Linked DNA regions of Homo sapiens: all the other regions are reported to be linked to region 1. The links are microRNA targets in miRTarBase. Many come from high-throughput screens and were not tested one by one. Region 1 holds a microRNA gene; each other region holds the end of a gene's coding sequence. Distances are between the middles of the regions.

Evidence for each region. Region 1 holds the annotated microRNA hsa-miR-6134 (UGAGGUGGUAGGAUGUAGA, at 2,108-2,126, shown strand). A microRNA usually pairs through its seed, bases 2 to 8, with sites in the 3' UTR of a target mRNA and lowers its output. Matches are read on the target gene's strand: a 7mer-m8 pairs with bases 2 to 8, a 7mer-A1 pairs with bases 2 to 7 and ends in A, and an 8mer does both.
Region 2: the mRNA of SHISA6 is a reported target of hsa-miR-6134. Seed matches in the 3' UTR shown: 8mer at 1,791-1,798.
Region 3: miRTarBase lists GPX7 as a target of hsa-miR-6134. Seed matches in the 3' UTR shown: 8mer at 3,478-3,485.
Region 4: the mRNA of SCAND3 is a reported target of hsa-miR-6134. Seed matches in the 3' UTR shown: 7mer-m8 at 1,369-1,375 and 7mer-A1 at 1,550-1,556.
Region 5: the mRNA of MSN is a reported target of hsa-miR-6134. Seed matches in the 3' UTR shown: 7mer-m8 at 2,007-2,013.

The regions. Positions count from the first base shown.
Region 1 is chrX:28,493,582-28,497,700 of GRCh38, reverse strand. MIR6134 (microRNA 6134) reads left to right here and starts at 2,038; the gene lies at 2,038-2,146.
Region 2 is chr17:11,557,976-11,562,094 of GRCh38, forward strand. SHISA6 (shisa family member 6) reads left to right here. Exons shown (of 6, transcript NM_207386.4): 6 at 1-4,119. The coding sequence ends at 329. Among named protein-coding and RNA genes, the nearest start is that of DNAH9, 38 kb to the right of the region's middle.
Region 3 is chr1:52,607,812-52,611,930 of GRCh38, reverse strand. GPX7 (glutathione peroxidase 7) reads right to left here. Exons shown (of 3, transcript NM_015696.5): 3 at 2,880-3,669. The coding sequence ends at 3,506. Among named protein-coding and RNA genes, the nearest start is that of GPX7, 7.5 kb to the right of the region's middle.
Region 4 is chr6:28,568,336-28,572,454 of GRCh38, reverse strand. It overlaps SCAND3 (SCAN domain containing 3), which reads left to right. Exons shown (of 4, transcript NM_052923.2): 4 at 1-1,920. The coding sequence ends at 544. Among named protein-coding and RNA genes, the nearest start is that of SCAND3, 17 kb to the left of the region's middle.
Region 5 is chrX:65,739,135-65,743,253 of GRCh38, reverse strand. It overlaps MSN (moesin), which reads right to left. Exons shown (of 13, transcript NM_002444.3): 12 at 4,060-4,119; 13 at 1,323-3,525. The coding sequence ends at 3,361. Among named protein-coding and RNA genes, the nearest start is that of MSN, 74 kb to the right of the region's middle.

The DNA of each region.
Region 1 (4,119 bases):
TATTATTTCTGTGGATTTACAAGATGCTTCCATTTATCTGTGGGAATGGTTTTGAAACTTCCAACTGTAATGTGTAGTGATTGTCTTTTTTTTTTTTTTTTTTTTTTAAGACGGAGTCTCACTCTGTAGCCCAGGCTGGAGTGCAGTGGCATGATCTGGGCTCAACTGCAACCTCTGCCTCCTGGGTTCAAGCAATTCTCCTGCCTCAGCCTCCCAAGTAGCTGGTATGACAGGCACCCGCCACCATGCCCTGCTAATTTTTGTATTTTTAGTTGAGATGGGGTTTCACCTTGTTGCCCAGGCTGGTCTTGAACTTCTGATCTCAAGTGATCTGCCCACCACGGCCTCCCAGAGTGCTGAGGTTACAGGCATGAGCCACTGCGCCTGGCCGGGATTGTCTGTTTTGATTTTATTTAATTAATTAGTTAATTAATTAATTTATATTTATTTATTTATTTTTGAGACATAGTCTCACTCTGTCGCCGGGGCTGGAGTGCAGTGGTGTGATCTCGGCTCACTGCAACCTCTGCCTCCCGGGTTCAAGCGATTCTCCTGCCTCAGCCTCCCGAGTAGCTGGGATTACAGGCATGTGCCACCATGCCCAGCTAATTTTTCGTATTTTTAGTAGAGGCGGGTTTTCACCATGTTGGCCAGGCTGGTCTCGAACTCCCGACCTAGTGATTCGCCCGCCTTGGGCTCCCAAAGTGTTGGGATTACAGGCGTGAGCCACCGCGCTGGCCTTGTTTTTATTTTTAACGGACGTTTTTGTAAACATTTATAGTTTTAGTAATATATATTTTTATCCATGTATTATTTTGAAGTTAGTTACATGATGCCACTTTCTCAGTTCTTTCTAGCAAAAATTTATTTATTTAACTATCTGATTGGACTGTTAATGGTTCTCTTTCCTTTTTCTTTCCTAATTCATAGAATCAGAGCTATTTTTAGACGATTGTATACTTAAAAAAATTCTACCATAATCAGCTCTTAGAAGCATTAAAATGTTTGGAAGATATGGGGGAAAACAAGAAATACTTTGATATTCTTAGGGGATTTTCCAGGGAAAATATGAGTAGCACTGACCTTTTATATCAAAATTTACCCACTCGAATGGGCACTTCACTGTCAACTTAAATTTTAAGAGGACCTAAAAAGGTTGTCTAGAATATAAATTAATTCAAATGTTGCAAGTTGACATATCACTTGAATTTCATATGATACATATTTTCCTAGATCTTTGGATATAGCACTAAGCATAGGAAAATGCTGAAAGGGGTGGACTACCTAGGGACCTTGGGACTTGAAGAATAAAACGGTGATGTGTTATCTGCGTTTCCTTAATATAGCCCATATATCCCAGACAGGGCTCTTCAGAAGCATCTAACCCGGAACTGCCAATAGCCATGGATAAAAGAAAACTCCAAAAAAAGTACTTTCTTCCCTAGCTAATTGACCAGAAATGGGGTGTCCCAACAATAAAAAAAACCTTTTTGGCAATACATACACCCTCAGCCAAACATCAATAGAAAAAAATGCCCCTGCTTTTGGGATTTCAGTGAAACTTAGTGGGGAGTTGATTTTCACACCACTACCCTACTCTATGAAAGCAGGTGGTGGGACTCGAATTTCTTCCTTCCTTTTCCTAGGGTGGGGCTGAGCACGGACCTAATTTTCTAAATGTGGAGCTAATCTTCCCACTGCTGCCTGGTGGAAGCAGACAGCACTTTTGTCAGCAAGTTAATGGGGCAGTTGAAATTCTGCTTCCATTCAGCAGAACCAGGAAGTGCTCCAATTCCTCTGCCAAGATAGTGTTAGCAGGACTGAGCAGGGACCTGGTCTTTTTGCCTCTCCCTGGCTGTCTCAGGCAGTATTCTGATTCCCCAGCCAGTGTAGTGGCCGTGGGGTCCAGCAGGCAGCTGAGCCTCCTCTGTACCCAGGATTAGTGAGACTTAGGAAGGCAGTACAAATTTGGGTCACCAAGCATTTCATTGATGCCAGGCATTGATGCCAGGTGGGAGTTGAACCTCAGCTCCCCACTGGGCCTTGATGTCAGTAGGGCTCAGTAGGGAACTGACCCTCTATTTCCACCTGCATAAATGAAGCTGAATGAGGTGGTAGGATGTAGAGCTGGTTGACACTCTGCTTTCTCAAACCCTGTGCTTCCCTGGTATTAATGGGGTTTAGCAGACAGTGAGCTTCTGCCCCCATCTGTAGTAACAAAGAGGTATGCATCAGTCCTCTCCTTACCCCTTGCTGGTGTCAGAGTGTCCAGTGGGAAGTCGAGCTTATACTCCTACTCAGAGGCAATGAAGCAATGTGACTCAGTGTCCTACTTTCATCAAGATGGTGTTAACAGGGCCAAAGGTGTGGCTAAACCTCTACCCCACTTATCTGTAGTGAGGCAATGTGAGTCACTGCCCCACTTTTGTCATGATAGTGTTGGTGGGGTTCAGTTGGAAACAGAATATGCATGGCAAACTGCCTTCATGCTACACTTGAACAGGCAATTGTCTGCTAAAAAGAGGAGATGAAATAGGATCCATAGTCTCATAATGTAATATCTAAAATGTCTAGACTATAATGGAAAAATCACTTGCTATACGAACAATCAGAAAAATCACAGCATGAATAAAAAGAACCAACGAACTGATAAAACACCAAGGTGGTTGAAAGCAAGGTGAATCAGATCTTCGCATTATCTGATAAGGTTTTTAAAGCAGCCATCATCAAAATGTGTCAACAAGCAATTACATATACTCTTGAAACAAAGGAAAAAAATAGAAAACCTCAGCAAAGAAATAGAAATTATAAAAAAGAACAAAATGGAAATCATAGAACTGAAAAGTGTAGTAATTAAAATAAATTCAATAGGTGGGCTCAAGAGTACATTGGAGATCACAAGAAGATAGAATCAGTGAACTTAAGTACAGATTATTGGAATGCACTCAGTTTGAAATTTATCTCAACTCAGGGGAGAAAAGAGACCTGGCAGAAAATGAACAAAGTATCAGGGAACTTTAGGACAATAACAACTCAGGGGAGAGAAGAGACCGGGCAGAAAATAAACAAAGTATCAGGGAACTTTTAGGACAATAACAAAGATCTAACATTTGTATCATCAGAGTCTGAGAAGAACAAAAACATTTAAAGAAATAATGGTTGAAAACTCTCCAAATTTAGTGAAAGCCATATCCTATAGATTCAAAAAGCTGAGGAAACTCCAAGTAGGATAAACCTAAAAAAATGTATGCAAAGACACAACAAAATTAAACTTGTGAGAACTAAACAAAAAGAAAAGAATTAAAAGCAGACAGACAGAAACAACATATTGCATATAGAGGAATACCACCTTGAATTGCAGTAAATTTCCCACCCTAAAACTATGCAATTTAGAAGGCGTGGTGCAAGATTTTTCAAGTACTGAAAGGAAGTAAATATCAACCCAGAATTCTGCATCCAGCAAAAATATTCTTCAGGAATAAACGGGAAATAAAGACATTCTCAGGTGAAGGAAACCTACAAGAAGGAAACTTATGATACTTTGTTGCAAGTAAAAGCACCCTTAATGAAAGGCTAAAGGAAGTTCTCTAAACAGAAAGGAAATGATAACAAATGAAGGCTTGGAACTTCAAAAAGGAAAGAAAAGCATCAGAATGAGTAAGAATGGGGTAATATATTGAAGACTAGTCTTCTCATGAGTTTCATACACTATATTTGATGTTTGAAGCAAAAATTATGACATCATTAGATGTGATGCTCAATGTATCTAGAGTAAATAATTAAGATCATTATATTTAAAATTTAGGAAAGGTAAAAGGACCTAAATGGTAGTAAGATTTCTACACTTCACTCAAAGTGATAAACCATTAATAGAAGTGATAGCTTACTTACATGCATTGTAACACCTAGAGCAACCACTAAGAAAACAATATAAGATGATATGTTCAAAAGATACTGATATAATTTAGCTTTGTCCCCGCCCAAATCTCATCTTGAATTGTATCTGTCATAATTCCCATTTTTGTGGGAGGGACCTGGTGGGAGATAATTGAATCATGGCAGCGGTTTCCCCCATACTGTTCTTGTGGTAGTGAATAAGTCTCAAGATCTGATGGTTTT
Region 2 (4,119 bases), not on the chromosome of region 1:
ACGAGCAGCTGCTCTCCACGGAGCGCCTGCACTCCCAGGACCCGCTGCTGTCCCCGGAGCGGACGGCCTTTCCCGAGCAGTCGCTGTCCAGGGCCATCTCGCACACGGACGTCTTTGTGTCCACACCCGTGCTGGACCGCTACCGCATGAGCAAGATGCACTCTCATCCCAGTGCCTCCAATAACTCATACGCCACCCTGGGCCAGAGCCAGACGGCAGCCAAGCGTCATGCCTTTGCCTCACGCAGACACAACACGGTGGAGCAGCTGCACTACATCCCGGGCCACCACACCTGCTACACAGCCAGCAAGACCGAAGTGACCGTGTGACCGGCGGGGCAGGGCCGGGGCTGCTGGGCGTGGCAGAGCAGAGCGGGGGCCGGGAGGGGCCAGGAGCAGAGCTTCTAGCCTTGCCACTCTCCCTTCCCTTGTCCCCTCTGTAGGAAGTGGGGGTGGGCCACCTTTGCCCAAAAAGCCATACCCCCGGGGACACAGCCCCGATGGCCTGGTCCAATACACTTAGACCCAGGACCAAGAGCAATCGCTCTTGCTCCTCCAGAAGAATCAGTGGGGAGTGAGGAGGGGGCTAGGCCCCATTCTCACCCCCGACCACCTTCACCAACTCCCTTTCCGTCCCGCGCCTCCTTCTCCCCATCCGGGGGACTCAGCTGCAGGTTCTGTCAGCAGAGAGACCCTTGCTTGACTGTGGTCTGAAGCTGCCTGGGTTTGAAGGGGCCAGCGGGTCCAATCAGTGGGCTGACCGGATAGGCTACTCGGTCTCATTCATTCATCTAGAACCGCATCACAGAAATCTCCTAGTGCCTAAAAACTGCCTGCTCGCTCTCTCAGAGCCAGGGAGCTGCTGTGTCCATAAGCACAATAATGATTCTTTTCTTGCCTGCTGGAACTCTCTGGTCCCCACTGAGTGACCCTTCCTTTGCTGACCCCTGAGGGCCCAACCCTGGCCCTGTGCCCCTCCCCTCAACTCCAGGACCAGGAGGGGTTCCCTTCCTTCAGCTGCCTCCCCATTGGTGGGAACTCCACCCCCTTCCAGCTGACTGCCCGCCCATAAGGACCCTGGGCCTGTCCTTTCAGCGGGCTGTGCTCCTTCCCTGGCCCTGAGGATTTCACCCTTGAGTTTTCTGGGGTTTTGGCTGTAGCCTTCGCAGAGGGGAGTAGCAATGGGGTGCTGGCCCTCCCAGACACCCGATCATCTCCGCACTCCCTCCAGGCCTCTAGACCTGACCATGACTGCCACTCAGGCTGCCTTCTCCACCCCTGCTCTGCTCCCAGGAGGCACCTGCGGTGGCCAGAGAGCCAGGGTGGGGAGGGCCACTGTGATGTGCGGGGTCTCGGGCTCAACATTCGCATCCTGCAGGGCTCCACCTGTTCCCACATGCACCTCCGGCAGGACCTAGACAGAAGTTTCTAGAGAGCAGCTTTTCAGCCCCCAGACAAGGAGGATGAGAGGTGGTTGTCCTGCATCCTCTCCGCTCATCCTTCCTTCCCCATCTCTGTCTACCTGCTCAGTTCAGAGATCACTCCTACTGCCTGTGTCCCCTTCCCCCACATCCTCCCTGCAACTTTATTCCTCCTAGCTGATCCTTCAGATCCGTGCCTCCTCTGGATCAAAGGGACAAAGACCTATTAGCAAAAGCAAACAAAGGTCCTCCAGGCGACTGGCCTAGGGGCTAACTGGGCAGGTCCCCACAGCATCATCCCTTTGTGCAGGCACTGGGGTACCTGGTAGACCATGGTCCTCAGCTCTGTTGGGGGACCGCCACTGCCCGCCCACCTCAGCCTCTTCCCCGCCTCCAGCCTGGGGGTTGGCATGGTGTGACGGCCTCCTGGGGAGGTGACAGTGAATTCAGCAGCATCCGCTCCCCCAAGACCAGAGAGCCTGGTGGGGGAAAGAAGGGGTTCCCTCATTCTCAGGGCCAGGGCACCCGCTGGGTTGGGGCTGGGGGAATCAACTCCAGGCTATTGGGTGAAGGTGTGATCCTAAAAACAGTCAGATCCAACAGCAGTGCCCTTATAAATGGGGTTTTACCTGCCCTCAGTTCTGCACTCATGGCCCTTTAAAAAGGCGAGTGTAGAAGGAGAATTTATTGGTGTCAGCCCTGGAGATTTTTAATCTAACCAAGTCCACAAACCACAGAGAAAGCAATGGACTGTGTCCTTTCACTGATTTCAAGAGTTCCAAAGCTCTCATCTCCTTCTCCCCTCTGCAGGGTGTGCCTCCCAACAGGAACAGGAAACCATCACCCTGGATCTTAGGGGGATGGAGGCTGGGGGTTGTGAAAGCCACTGTCAGACCCCACACTGGGGATGCATTCCTGGAGTCGTGCGGCTGGAAGGCCAGGGACTACCCTCTCTGCTTTCCTCCCAACAGACACATAAACCTTCTTAAGGGCTGGTCCCCAGGGGTTTATAAGAGTTTGTTCCAGAAGGTGAGGCTAAGAGGGTTGGAAAGGAAGAAGTGAGTCTGAATAGAGCAGGTGGCTCCCAGCTGGGCCCCTGAGCCCAGCACCTTTGAATCGTCTAATCTGTGGCCATCCCTTGGAAGGCAGGATGCTGGTGGTGAGGGGAAAGGACCTGAGTGGCTGAGAATGCCCTTCCCAGGTGTCTACATGCAGGTATACACCAAACCAGAAAGCTGATCCCATCTCCAGTGTCAAAGCTTCTCAGCACCAAGTTCTCCAGCCCCCAGGGTGACACTTTTCCCCAGGGGTCCTCCCCAAGCCCTGTCTCTGACAGGGTTTCTGTCTCTCTCAGGGGTTGTTGATGAGTTGATTCCAAGACATTTCTCATCCCAGCCTTACCACTGTCTGGCTGAAAGGCTCTGATGTCAGTTGGGTTGGAAAATTCTACTGCAATGCTTACTTCTTTTCAAGGATTTCTTCTGCTTCACCTTTGGGTCTAGAAGCAAGGAATGAAGGGAGGGAGAGAGGGAGGGAGGGAGGGGAGGAGGGAAGAAAAAAGAAGTAGAGATAGGTCTACAGACTTGCTCCAATTCAGTCCCACATTTCAAAATCCAGAAAACTATGTCATAGCTGGGACAGAGAGGTATCCCATTTATTCAGCTGTCCCATCCATCTTCATGGAACAAGCAAAGCCACATCAATAGGCAAGTTCACGTAGCAGATAAAAGAGGCTTCTGGGGCTGGAACCTAGATGCCATGATTTCTAGCCCAACCAGGCTGGTGGCCTCTACCATACATAGAAGTACCATCCACCCTTACAGTAAAAGCCTCCCTCCTGCTCACAAAGGAAGCCTAAAGCCCAAGATTTCCCTCTCCTTGTTTTATTCATTTTTGCACATCTCTGTTGCTCTAACAGAAATGAACTGGAATCTGCACAGGTTCTCTCCTGCCCTGAAAGTTCTGCCTGGTTTCCTTGGCCTCTGATGGCATTGAAGCTTTCACAATCCCTCCTGCATCTCCACCTTCCCTGTCTTGCTCCAGGCTCCTGGCTCCATGCCTTCCTGTGTCAAAAAGGCTTTGCCAAGAATTACTTCACCTCCTAACCAGGCTTCTGCCCTCAGGGCTCCCCCAGTGTCTTGGGAGTGTCTTGGGCCACACGACTGCCTCTTAGAAAGTTCCAACCTTGCCCCCAATTCAAATTTCTCCTCCCCTCTTTCCACTCTCCCTCCCAGAAACTCCTGATTTCCAGAAAACCTCAGATTTCCAGGCCAGGTCACTCATTCCTTCCTCTCATCTCCCTCTTCCTCCATCTACCTTCCTCCATTCACCTTCCTCCATTCCTAATTTCTTTTCCCTGGTCTTGCTATAATCTCCAGCTCTAAAAATCAGAGCTCTCAATGAAAACAATGGAAGAATAAGACATTCTTTCGGTCTTCTGTTTGCCTCACTGGTGTATCCTTCATCTCCTGCCCCTGTGAGTTGATACCCCAGTGCACGGAGCCAAGGGCTTTTCCCCTCTGAGCTCTGGGAGGGAAGGGAATGGAGCTCTGGGTTTGAGATGTCATGGCCTGTGATAGTCAGTTTGGTTCCTGCCACTAGCAAGTCCCCTGAAGCTCCCAACCCAGCCTGATGTTAGCCCAGAAGCTCCTGCTCTGGCCAAAGACTCCTATCCTTGAGGGCTCTCAGCCACTGCTCCA
Region 3 (4,119 bases), not on the chromosome of region 1:
CACCATGAAGGGAGACTGTGAAAATCCTAAGCACGGTTTAACCCTTTCATTGTCCAGTGAGAAAACGGAGGACAGGAGAGAGGGAAGAATTTGCTGTGAGTCAGGGGCACAACAGGAACTTGAATCTGAGTCTCCAGACTTCTAGAAGAGTGACCTTAGATAAAGTACACCTGAAATTCTTATTGGCCAATGAATTATCTACCAGTGACTCTGCCCATCACCCCATTTTTTTTATAGTATTTTGGTCTGTTGCTCAGGTTGGAGTGCAGTGGCGTGATCATAGCTCACTGCAGCCTCAAACTCCCAGGCTCCAGTGACTCTCCTCACTCAGCCTCCTGAGTAGCTGGGACTATAGGTGTGCACCATCACACCTGGCTAATTTTTTGATTTTTTGTAGAGATGAAGTCTCACTGTGTTTCCCAGGCTGCACCCCAATTTTTAGCCACCTTTCCACATTTATATAAAGGTGAAATATGGATTTGACATACAAAATTCAAACATTACAGAAACTTAATGAAAATGACTCCTGTTATCCTACCTCAGCCCCTCGCAGACAACCACCATTAAGAGTTTGGTCTATATTTTTCCCTCTCTCTTTCCCTCCCACTTAACATTGTAAATTTTTTAAAAATTTGGGACAGGGTCCACTCCCATTGCCCAGGCTGGAGTACAGTGGCGCAAACACGGCTCACTGCAGCCTCAACCTCCTGGGCTCAAACAATCCTCCTGCCTCAGCCTCCTGAGTAGCTGGGACTACAGGTGTGAGTGACCACGCCTGGCTAATTTTTAAATTTTTTTGCAGAGACACGGTCTTGCCATGTTGCCCAGACTGGTCTTGAACTCCTGGGCTCAAGCAATCCTCCCACCTCTGCCTCCCAAAGTGCTGGGATTACAGGCGTGAGCCACCTAATGCACCCAGCAACATTGTACATTTTTAATAAAAACATTACACTTGTTCATACTGGTTTTTCTGGGTATGTGAATGTGTTCATTCTGTTTTACAACTTATCATTTTTTCACTTTTGGACAACTTTCTATGGTAGCATATGGAGACTTCATTCATTCATTTTAATAACCATATTAGTTTATAATTTGAGGCAAGGTCTCCTCTGTCACCCAGGCTGAGTGCAGTGGCATGGTTACGGTTCGCTGCAGCCTTGACCTCCCAGGCTCTAGCAATTCTCTCACCTCAGCCTCCTGATAGCTGGGACTACAGGCATGCACTGCCATGGCCAGCTAATATTTTTTTGTAGAGGTGGGGTCCCACTATGTTGCATGGTGGCGTGTGCCTGCAGTCCTAGTTACTCAGGAGGCTAAGGATGCAGTAAGCTACGATCGAGCCACTCTTCTTCAGCCTGGGCAACAGAGTGTGACCCTGTCTCAAAACAAAAAGCAAAAACAAAAGGTATGAGCATTTTGTTTTAAAAGATATTGCCAAATCACCCTCCAAACACTTGTGCCAGTTTATCGTACCACAGTTTATGTGAATGCCCATTTCCTCACATCCCTGCCAACCAGGGGTATTATCATTAAAAAAATATCTTTCGGCCGGGAATAGTGGCTCACGCCTGTAATCCCAGCACTTTGGGAGGCCGAGGCGGGCGGATCACTGGGTCAGGAGATTGAGACCATCCTGGCTAACATGATGAAACCCCGCCTCTACTAAAAATACAAAAAAAAAAAAATTAGCTGAGCGTGGTGGTGGGCGCCTGTAGTCCCAGCTACTCGGGAGGCTGAGGCAGAATGGCGTGAACTTGGGAGGCAGAGCTTGCAGTGAGCCGAGACTGTGCCACTGCACTCCAGCCTGGGTGACAGAGCTAGACTCCATCACAAAAACAAAACAAACAAACAAAAAACTTTCCAACTTCAATGAGGCTGGACATCTTTTTGTATCCTTATTACGCATCTATAGTCTTCCGTGAACTATCTATTCATCTCCTTTGCCTATTTGTTATTGAGGTGTACTTTTGGCTAGTGGATTACTCAGTGAATTTTTTTTTTTTTTGAGACAGAGTCTCTCTCTGCTGCCCAGGCTAGAATGCAGTGGCGTTATCTCCGCTCACAGCAACCTCTGCCTCCCGGATTCAAGCGATTCTCCTGCCTCAGCCTCCAGAGTAGCTGGGATTACAGGCACCTGCCATCATGCCCGACTAATTTTTATATTTTTGTAGAGACGGGGTTTCACCATGTTGGCCAGGCTGGTCTCAAACTCCTGACCTCAGGTGATCCACCCGCCTCAGCCTCCCAAAGTGCTGGGATTACAGGCATGAGCCACTGTGCCCGGTCATGCCAGGCTAATTTTTGTATTTTTATTTTTTTATTTTTATTATTATTATTATTATTGAGACGGAGTCTTGCTCTGTCGCCCAGGCTAGAGTGCACAGGCTGGAGTGCAGTGGCACGATCTCTGCTCACTGCAAGCTCCGCCTCCCGGGTTCACACCATTCTCCTGCCTCAGCCTCCAGAGTAGCTGGGACTACAAGCGCCCGCCACCACGCCCGGCTAATTTTTTGTATTTTTAGTAGAGACGGGGTTTCACCGTATTAGCGAGGTTGGTCTCGATCTCCTGACCTCGTGATCCGCCCGCCTTGGCCTCCCAAAGTGCTGGGATTACAAGCGTGAGCCACCGCGCCCAGCCTAATTTTTGTATTTTTAGTAGAGATGGGTTTTCACCATGTTGGCCAGGCTGGTCTCAAACTCTTGACCTCAGGTGATCCACCTACGTTGGCCTCCCAAAGTGCTGGGATGACAGGCGTGAGCTACCGTGCCCGGTCACTGAGTTCTTATTGGGCAATAATGATTGGCTTAACCAAAGGCCTGGCAGCCTTTGTACCAAACTGCTAACACTGTTTACCTCTAGGGAGGGAGACTATGGAAAATGAGGAGGATACTTTCATTTTTATTTTATATCGTGAGGTATTGTTTGGATTGTTACAATGAACTTGCATTTCTTTTGTAATGAAGAAAATAATACAGAGGAAATAACAACAACTAAACCTTTGGCCTGGATTATCATCGGCTGGAAATTCATGTTGGATGCAAGTTTTTATTGATAACAAGTTATTTTTTGGTTTATATGCAAAAAATGTTCATTGAATGCCTCCTATTTGGCTGGCACTGCCTAGGCACTTTCACAGGTATTTCATCCTAATCCTCACAACAGCCCTATGAGGTAATCATTGGTCCCAGTTTACAGAAGCCTTGGGTGGGAGATTATTGCTTGATATACTTCTATTTGCCACACATTTTTGTTGGCAAGACGTTCGTATCGGCTGGTGATTCACTGGTCAAGAGCTCTCATTGGCCAGGAGTTCCTATTTGTTGCTGTAAGATTCAAATAATCAAAATACTAGAATTTTTCCCCCACAAGAATGATGGGACCAATGGCATAAGAGTAAAGGAAGGAGAGTCAGTGGGTCTCTCCCTTTGAAGCACCATTTGAGTTTGCATTGGTCAGCCCCACACAGGTGGGCGGGATGAGGTGGTGGAGGAGGAGACGCGGTGGTTATAAGTCTTCTCGCTTCAGTAGGATGAGCTTCCTCACGAGCGCTGTGATCTGGGGTCTGACCTCCTCCACTGACACAGTTGGGTCCCAAGCCCCTACCACCTTTCCATCTGGGGCTACTAGGTACTTCCAGAAGTTCCAGGTGGGCTCCTTCCCAGAAGTCTCTAGAGAAAAAGGAAGGAGAGCAAAGCGTGCTACCCTGCGTACCCTCTCCTGGGACTTCACTCTCAGTGTCCATCTTTCCCTGGTGGCAGCTAATCCTGATGCCCAGTCCACACCCCAGACCACTCCAACCAGAATCTCTGAGGGTGAGGCTCAGGCATCAGCATTTTTCAAAAGCCCCCTGGGAGATTCCAAAGTGGGGCCGAGGTTGAGAACGACTGCTGTAGGATTCTGTGACGTGCTTGATAAAGTGGTATCAAATCCTCCTTTATTAATGACTTCGAACTACTGAATAGTCTACACCCTATTCTCTAGTTCAGTTTTAATGGTTTCCAAATGTTAGTCCATGGACTGGTTTCATCAGAATCACTGGGGGTCAGGGGAGTGCTTAAAATAAAGATTCTTGGGCCCTGCTTCAGTAGGTCTCAGCCTTGTGCATTTTTAAGAGCTCC
Region 4 (4,119 bases), not on the chromosome of region 1:
CAGAATTTCTACAGATTGTTATGACATGTTTCATAATTTAACAACAATTATCAATGAAGTAGGTAATGATCTTGATATTGCACATCTGCGAAAAGTTATCAGTGAACATCTTACAAATTTGTTAGAATGTTTTGAATTTTATTTTCCATCAAAAGAAGATCCACGCATAGGAAATTTGTGGATCCAAAATCCATTTCTTTCATCAAAAGATAACTTAAATTTAACTGTAACTCTACAGGATAAGTTGTTGAAGCTGGCTACCGACGAAGGATTGAAAATCAGTTTTGAAAATACAGCATCACTTCCTTCATTTTGGATAAAAGCTAAAAATGACTATCCTGAGCTTGCTGAGATTGCTTTAAAATTGCTGCTTCTTTTCCCCTCAACATACCTCTGTGAGACCGGATTCTCTACTTTAAGTGTTATTAAAACAAAACATAGAAACAGTTTAAATATACATTATCCCCTGAGGGTAGCATTGTCATCAATCCAACCTAGATTAGACAAATTAACAAGCAAGAAGCAAGCTCACTTATCACATTAAAAGCTTTAAATATTGATATGTAAGGTATTGGTTCAAAGTATGCATATAAGCATTGAGTGTGAGGAATTTGCTATTTCACTTTAAACTTTCTGTCTAGTTACAGTTATGGAAGTATGAGAAGTTATGAGTGAAACAGCAATTTTCTATATAAATTGCCTATATGTATATTTTCAATTAAGAATGTGTACAGTTTTTATAATTCTATTTTTCCTCATATTTGTCGTATTTATTAAAATATAATTTTAAATCTGTTGATTCTAATATTAAAACATTTGATCTTATATTTTGTGTCTTCTTCTTGTATTTCATTAGCATGTTAAGATTGTAGGACAACTTCAGGATGGGAGATGGTTTCTTTGAAATAGACAAGGTCAGTGAAAGGAAGTGAATTCAAAGGGGTAGGCTTAGAATTCAAATGCAGGGGACAGGTCAGTAGGGTATGAAGTTTGTTAAACTGATCCAGAGTGGTTAGGTTGGAAGTTGATGTTGTTTGTTTTGTAGGTGCATGTTTAGACAAAGATGGAAGGGAACACTTATTTTGTAATGGTGTTATGGCCTTGGATTCATATTGATAAATTTATTTACTTATTTATTTTTGAGGCAGGGTCTTGCTCTGTTGCCCAGGCTGGAGTGCATTGGTGCAATCTCTGCTCACTGCAACCTGTACCTCCTGGGTTCAAGTGATTCTCTTGCCTCAGTCTTCCGAGTAACTGAGATTACAGGCACCCACCACCATGCCTGGCTAATTTTTGTATTTATAGTAGAGATGGGGTTTCACCATGTTGGCCAGGCTCATCTTGAACTCCTGACATCAGATGACCCTCCCACCTCGGCCTCTCAAAGTGCTGGGATTACAGGCGTGACCTGCTGCGCCCGGCCGATAAATTCTGATTTCATAAGGATGGGCGATTGGGCCATACTGACAAGTTTATGTTAGGTGGTTTCTAGATTTTGCTAGAACTGATTGCCTTTAAGGTGCTCTGGGACAAAGTCAGAAATTATTGGCACCTCAATTAGATTTAACAACCTCTATTTTGTTTGGAGATGATTCAGAAAAATGCCACAAATATCTGCTCTTGTGTCTGTGAACTCATTTAGAATAATCGAAAGCAAATTAGTCCGATAAAACAGGTTCTTTAGCATCAAAACATGACAGAATCCATGAAGAAAATATCTTTTCCTAGACAGGGTAGCAATTTACAGTAAGTGCTTCGTTTCAAATAAATGTGATATTCAAAGTTAAGGAAAGGAAGGCTATTTAGTGATTCAGAATGTTACTAATAATTTAACCTTTTGGTAATGGAAGTTTCAAGGATCCTCCAAACCTTTGAAAGTAGAGGAAAGGTTCATATTTAGTCCTGAAACCTTAATTGGATTATGTTTTATTGTGTGTTTGTTTTAATCTTACAGCTTTTCAAAAACAAAAAACCTTATCATGGTGGATAGATTTAGAAGACAGTGGTTTAATTTCTCCCACTGACAAATTATATGCCCTCTTTCTTATCTGACCATATTCTAGAACTAAGGGATTTTAAAATGTTTTACAGTTTGTTTTATTGATTGAATAAAGTATTGTGTTTCCCATTTTTAATTTCAAAAGGCAATGTGGTGATTTTATATTTATTTCTATAAAAACTTAAAGTAGTCTGGAAGAAATTAAGAGGGAATTAAGAGTACATATTAAAAGAGAACTAAATTCCCTTACTTTCTCTCTAAGAAATATAAAGTATTAGATGTTTGAGATTGGTACAAAGCCTTCACTTTCTCTCTAAGAAATATAAAGTATTGGATGTCTGAGATTGGTACAAAGCCTTCTCATATACTTGAACAACTATTTTTATTTTTTTCTGCAAATGATTCAGTGCCAGGAGGCTAACTTGCTTTACCTTTTTTTTAAGACATAGGAATATTTGTCTTTCCTCCCTTACCTCCCTGTTTTATTGTCTCACTGTAAATTTTTTTAGGGCAACAGCTTTATTGAGATTTTTATTGAGATCATGAAATCTTACTGCCTATTCTTAACGTGAATTTGATGACTAGTGATTCTGTAGATAACCTGATTTTCTCTTCCTATTTTCTGCTTGTTTTGCAGCAAGTTCACATGTCTATAAACGTGGTATATGAATACAATGCAAAGGTATCTTTATTTGTGTATACTTACAACTACTGTATGCAGTACTGTTTATTTCCATCTATCATGTATATATGTGCTGGTTTTAAAAAATTGTATTTATGTATAACAGGAGGTTGTGTTGGGCTTTTCCTATTACTCAAAGAACAGCAACTAGGGAGGAGTCAAAGATGGGTCAAGGGAACGCTAAGTACTTCACTTTTTAAAGAAATCTGACAATGACTAGAATCAGAAAACCCCACCACCCACTGCCTCCATGCACACACCCAGACCTAACTTGAAGGATGATTAAGAAGTCGTAGAACTAGCTCCCAAAATTGTGCTTTCTGCCAAAGGAATCACTGGTAGTGATTGAAGATGCCTTCAGGAAGGAAAGACTTGTATTTTATTTCCAGATTGGGTGTTAATTTAGGCAGCAAACTTGTTCATCTGCTTTCTGCCTACTTTATCAGGAAAATAAAAGGGAAGGTGGGGTGGGGAGGGGAGGCGATTAGACTTGCAGTAGTTCAGTCTGTAGTCTCACAATTTGGGGTGGCAAAGATACGCAAGTTTCCTGTGGGTCAGGTGACACCAAGGAATGTAATTAATTCTGACCTCTCGGCTAGTGTCACATTCAGGAAAACTGTCCTTCAGCCTGGAGAACTCTCCAACAAAGCCTGTGGGCATTTATAGCTATGGACAGATGAAGGAGGTAAAAGCCATTATCTATCTATTTATATATTTGTGGGTAAGGCCCCCACAAATATCTTGGAGAATTCTCACATGGTCCCCATGAAAGAATGAGAAAGCTTGAATTCTGGGGCTTAGAGGGCAAATTACAAATTTACCCTTGGTACCCGTATGTGTGCGCGCGTGCACATATTTTGAAGTCTTTGGTCTAGCCCTGGTTTGAGGAAGCAGGATACAAGAGGGAATTGCAGCTAAGGGGCCTGATGGCCTTTGCAACCTTATACCCAGATTCCTCTATATTACCCCAGCCACCTGGATGAAAGACCACTTCTCCTTCAGCTCTGCTGGTGAGAAACTTGAGAAAGAACCAAAGTGAGGGGAAACCCAGGGTGGGGCTTTTATGGCAGAGAAAGGAGGGTAGAGATTACTTGAGTGATCTCAGTGGTGCAGTCAAACTCTGGGCTTTTGGAGTTTGGCTGTTCTGGTTTGGCTGGCTGCTTAGATATTTCAAAGACAAAAGAATCTTGAGTCAGGTTCTAAAAGGATCCCTGTTAGAAAGTGTCCCTTCTCTGATATATGGCTGTGTACTTTCTGCAGTGAATCTCTCCTGAATAACTCCCAGAATGTCTTTGCCAGTGTTCACCAAGATAGAAAGATTGTGAAAGTTTCAAACATTATACAATTAGAAATTATTATGATAAAGAATAAGACATTTATTTACTGGTTCAAAGAACATACTGTGTGCTTTGTATTCTGACATATGTGTGTTAAATTG
Region 5 (4,119 bases), 37 Mb from region 1:
AAGATATGGTCTGGGCTTTGGAATCTTTAAAGGATTCTAATGTGCAGACAAGTTTTTGAGCCACTGCCTCAAAGGGTTGTTGTTAAGGATTTAAAGCTCACAAAACATACGATAACTGGGCCAGGCCTCATGGGCTCCCACCTGTAATCCCAGCACTTTGGGAGGCCGAGGCAGGCAGATCACTTGAGGCCAGGAGTTCAAGACCAGCCTGGCCAACATGGTGAAACCCCATCTCTACTAAAAATACAAAAATTAGCCAGGCATGATGGTGTGTGTCTGTAGTCCCACCTCCTACGGAGGCTGAGGCAGGAGGAGAATCGCTTAAAGGTTGCAATGAGGCAGGATTGCACCACTCCACTCCAGAGTGGGCAACAGAGACTCCATAAAAAGAGTAAGAGAGAGAGAGAGACAGAGAGAGAGAGAGAAAGAAAGGAAGGAAGGAAGGAAGGAAGGAAGGAAGGAAGGAAGGAAGGAAGGAAGGAAGGAAGGAAGGAAGGAAGGGAGAGGAAGGAGGGAAGGAGGGAAGGAGGGAAGGAAGGAAGGAAGGAAGGAAGGAAGGAAGGAAGGAAGGAAGGAAGGAAGGAAGGAAGGAAGGAAATATATGATAACTTACTTTTCCTTGCAAGTGTTGGCTTACCAGGAAGGAAAGTGGTAAGTGAGAGTGCCAGGTCCAGGACAGTTTAGAAGGTTTGTCTGGCCTCAGTTTCCTCATCTGCAAAATGAGGATAACCATATCTAGGCTACAAAATGTTTTATACATGTTTTATAAACTATAAAGTACTACCCAATAGCTTTTGTACATACACACACTCTCCATCCTCACTTCACACTCCATTCCCCACTGCCTTCTGCAACAGGGCCCAAGGTAGTTTCCCTGACCTTTATTGGCACTACAATATGTGAGGGTAGTAGGAGGCAGGAAAAGCCTGAAGACCTTCCTGACAAAGAGGCAGGACAGGGCCTGAGCATCCCAAGAGAAATCAAGAGATACAAATAAGTACCTCTTAGGTCCCAATGCCAGGCAAGTCCAGGAGCATCACATGGTCAATGCAGGATCCACACCCACAGTAGAAAAGTTGGCCTGGAACTACCGAAAGGGCACAGACTATTAAGTTAGACAGTCCTGTGACCTTGGGAAGTTATTATACTTTTTTGAGCCCATTCTCTCCTATATAAAATGGGGATAGTCATATCACCCCTCTCCATAGAACTGAGGTATAGATGAAATGAGACCAAAGATAAGAAGGTAATATATAAATAGAAACTGCAGTGAAATATCTTACAGCTACCCACTCATACCACAAAGAACGATTGAGTCACTGTGAAGTCTTCCTAAATTTTATTGGCACTGAAATAGAACATGGATTGAGCATAAACCCCTCCAAAAACAATTTTTAAAAAACCCAAAAAGTACACAAAAAACCCCTGAATACAAAATCTAACCTTTTCCCCCAGCCTCCCTAAGGGTAAGTTACTGACTTTAAGGCAGCTATTAATAGATTGCCCCACAATTCCAGGTTTCAATTTAGCCAATATAGGACATATCACCAAGTGAGCTAATTCACAGCAATGCACACAAGACTCCTCAAGGTCAGGCACAGAGTGGGGGGTGGTGGCCAGGGGGAATTGAGGGAGGCTCTAAGCTAGGGGCACTGCATGGTGGGACAGGATGGCCCCTTGAGGACTGAACCCTGGGGAGAAGACAAACAGTAATAATAAAAACAAATAACAAGTACTTTAAGAATGGATTGTATGACCTATAGTGACAGATGACATCACTAATACTGAAAGCTTCTTATATTAATAATTTTGGCAAAATGTCATTTTGTAATATAGTATATGCTTTCCAGGTGTGGGGGTGGTAAAGTAATGAGGCCAAAATCATCCTGCCCCAAGACTAATATCTTCTAATGGTGCATTAGCAAGGAAGGCAGAAATCAATATTTAGATATCAGTAGAGTACATAATACTGTAGAAAGAAGAAGAGCACACATGAGACAGAGAAGGAGGTGGATGCTCCTGGGTTGAGAGCAAGGGGTGGGGGTGTGGAAGGGACTAGGCCAGAATCCCCAGCAGCTCTCTGGTTTACAGCTCCAAGGGACAGAACAGCTGGTGTCAAGACCTGGGTTAGAGGTTTGTCAAACAGAGGCAGGGCCCAGTCACCTCTTTGGAGGGGAGTGATGAGAAGGGGATTTTGGTCACCTGAGAGGGTTGAGTAAACTTGGATCAGGGCACAGGCTTCTCTCACCATACTCAGCTTTTTGCACTCACTCCCTAGTTGAGCCTACTGGCATCAAGCTCTAGATGCCAAGGCTGGGATGGCTGTGGAGCAGGAGCTATGGCCCAAGTAGCTCTGAGAGGGGAAGAGACCTAAAACCCCTAGCAGGGAAAATACTGACGCTAGGTGTGAACATATCCTCTCTTTTCACAAGAGTCCTGATGGGGCTGGCTGAGCTTTTGGGTACTCATCCCTACTGTTATAGCTGGAGAGGATTTGGGTATTGAAGCAGGGAGGGGCAGATCCCACGAAGTGACTGCAGATCTGGAATAATAAGTAAGGGGTAGATCTGCCCATAGAGCTCACTTTAGACCGGCCTATACTCCTACAAGGAATTGGGGTAGGATCTTCTACTCAGCCTTGCCACAATAGAATGGCCAATGCCCTTCTAGTATGTTTGGTGAAGGTCTTGAAGGCACCATTTCCCCCATCCACCCTGGGGAGAAATTGAGTCCCTAAAGTCAACGACAAGGCTTATTGAGGCTGAGTTTGCAACAGATCCGATCTGGGAGGTAGAAACAAAAATGACTGAACATCTTTTTATCCCCCAATCGTTACAAAGCCTAAATAACTCTAAACGGGATGGGAGGGCAAATTTTAGGTCAGTTGACATCCTGGAGAAGATATCCTAGGTCCTGTCTCATTCCCTAGACCGCATAACACTCCAACCGTGTAAATCTCAGGACCCTGAAGAAGACAGTGGTAGGGGAGAGGAGGGGAGCTAGCTTCCAACCTACTCCACACTTGACTCCCATAGGACAACAGTAAGTGTAAGGGCATTTGCAAAATCAAGTGGAAAGTACCTCTAGGCTGGAGAAGTAGGATATTCTAGCCATACAGATTCAATGGAACAGAGAAGAGAAAGGAGGTTCCATTGGCACCATAGTGAGCCATTCATTTGCCCAGGGAAGTGGGTGGGGGCTAAGGGGCTAGGTTTGGTCCCATGGCTACATTAAATGCTTGGCATGACTCCAGGGCTGCTCTAGTTAGTGGCTCCAGCACAGTATGAGTTAGGTGAGTTAGGTGTAGGAGTGTGGGGACAAGGAAAAAGGGAGGAGGGGTCCCTAGAGGCTGGGTGCCCATTACATAGACTCAAATTCGTCAATGCGCTGCTTGGTGTTGCCCTGCCGGATCTGGCGCAGGGTCTTGTATTTGTCTCGGCCCAGTCGCATGTTCTCAGCATGGATCATGTCATTGGCAGTCTTCTTGGACTCATCTCTGGCATTGGCCAGCTCCGAAGTGAGGGCCTGTGAGGATGTATGGGAACACAGAGGTCAATGGCTTTCTCTCATTTTACCTCCTGTTATTTGACCAGACTTCCCTTCTCTTCTGTTTCCTTCTTTCTTCCTCACCCTTTCTCTCTATATATAAATATTGAGAGTCATTTCCAACTCTGTTAGAACTGCAGTGGGGCAAGAATATTAAAAAAAAATAAATAAACTTAGGGGACCAGTTGATAATGGGTATCCTTTAAGAGTAGAACAACATACAAAAGATTCAGGTGGGAATTTTGTCAGCTAGATATTTTCTTAATGTAAGAGGTGAATGGAGTGAGTGGGAGGTGGGGCAGAGAGAAAATCTCAAAAAGGGAAGAGATAGCCCAAGGTCTGATTAATAAGTGAGAGGTGCCTATCCTTAAAGCTGTCACTTAAGAACGGCTTGGGCTCCCATACAACACTGGGACAGGATCTTATACCTATCCCCCATGATGGTCTAGGGAATGCCATGGGCTACTAAATCAATGCATATAGTTTCCTTGCCCCTTGGCCCTACTTGTATACCTTCAGGTGCTTCTGCACACGCTCATTCTTCTCTGCCTCAGTGGTACGTTCCTCCTCACT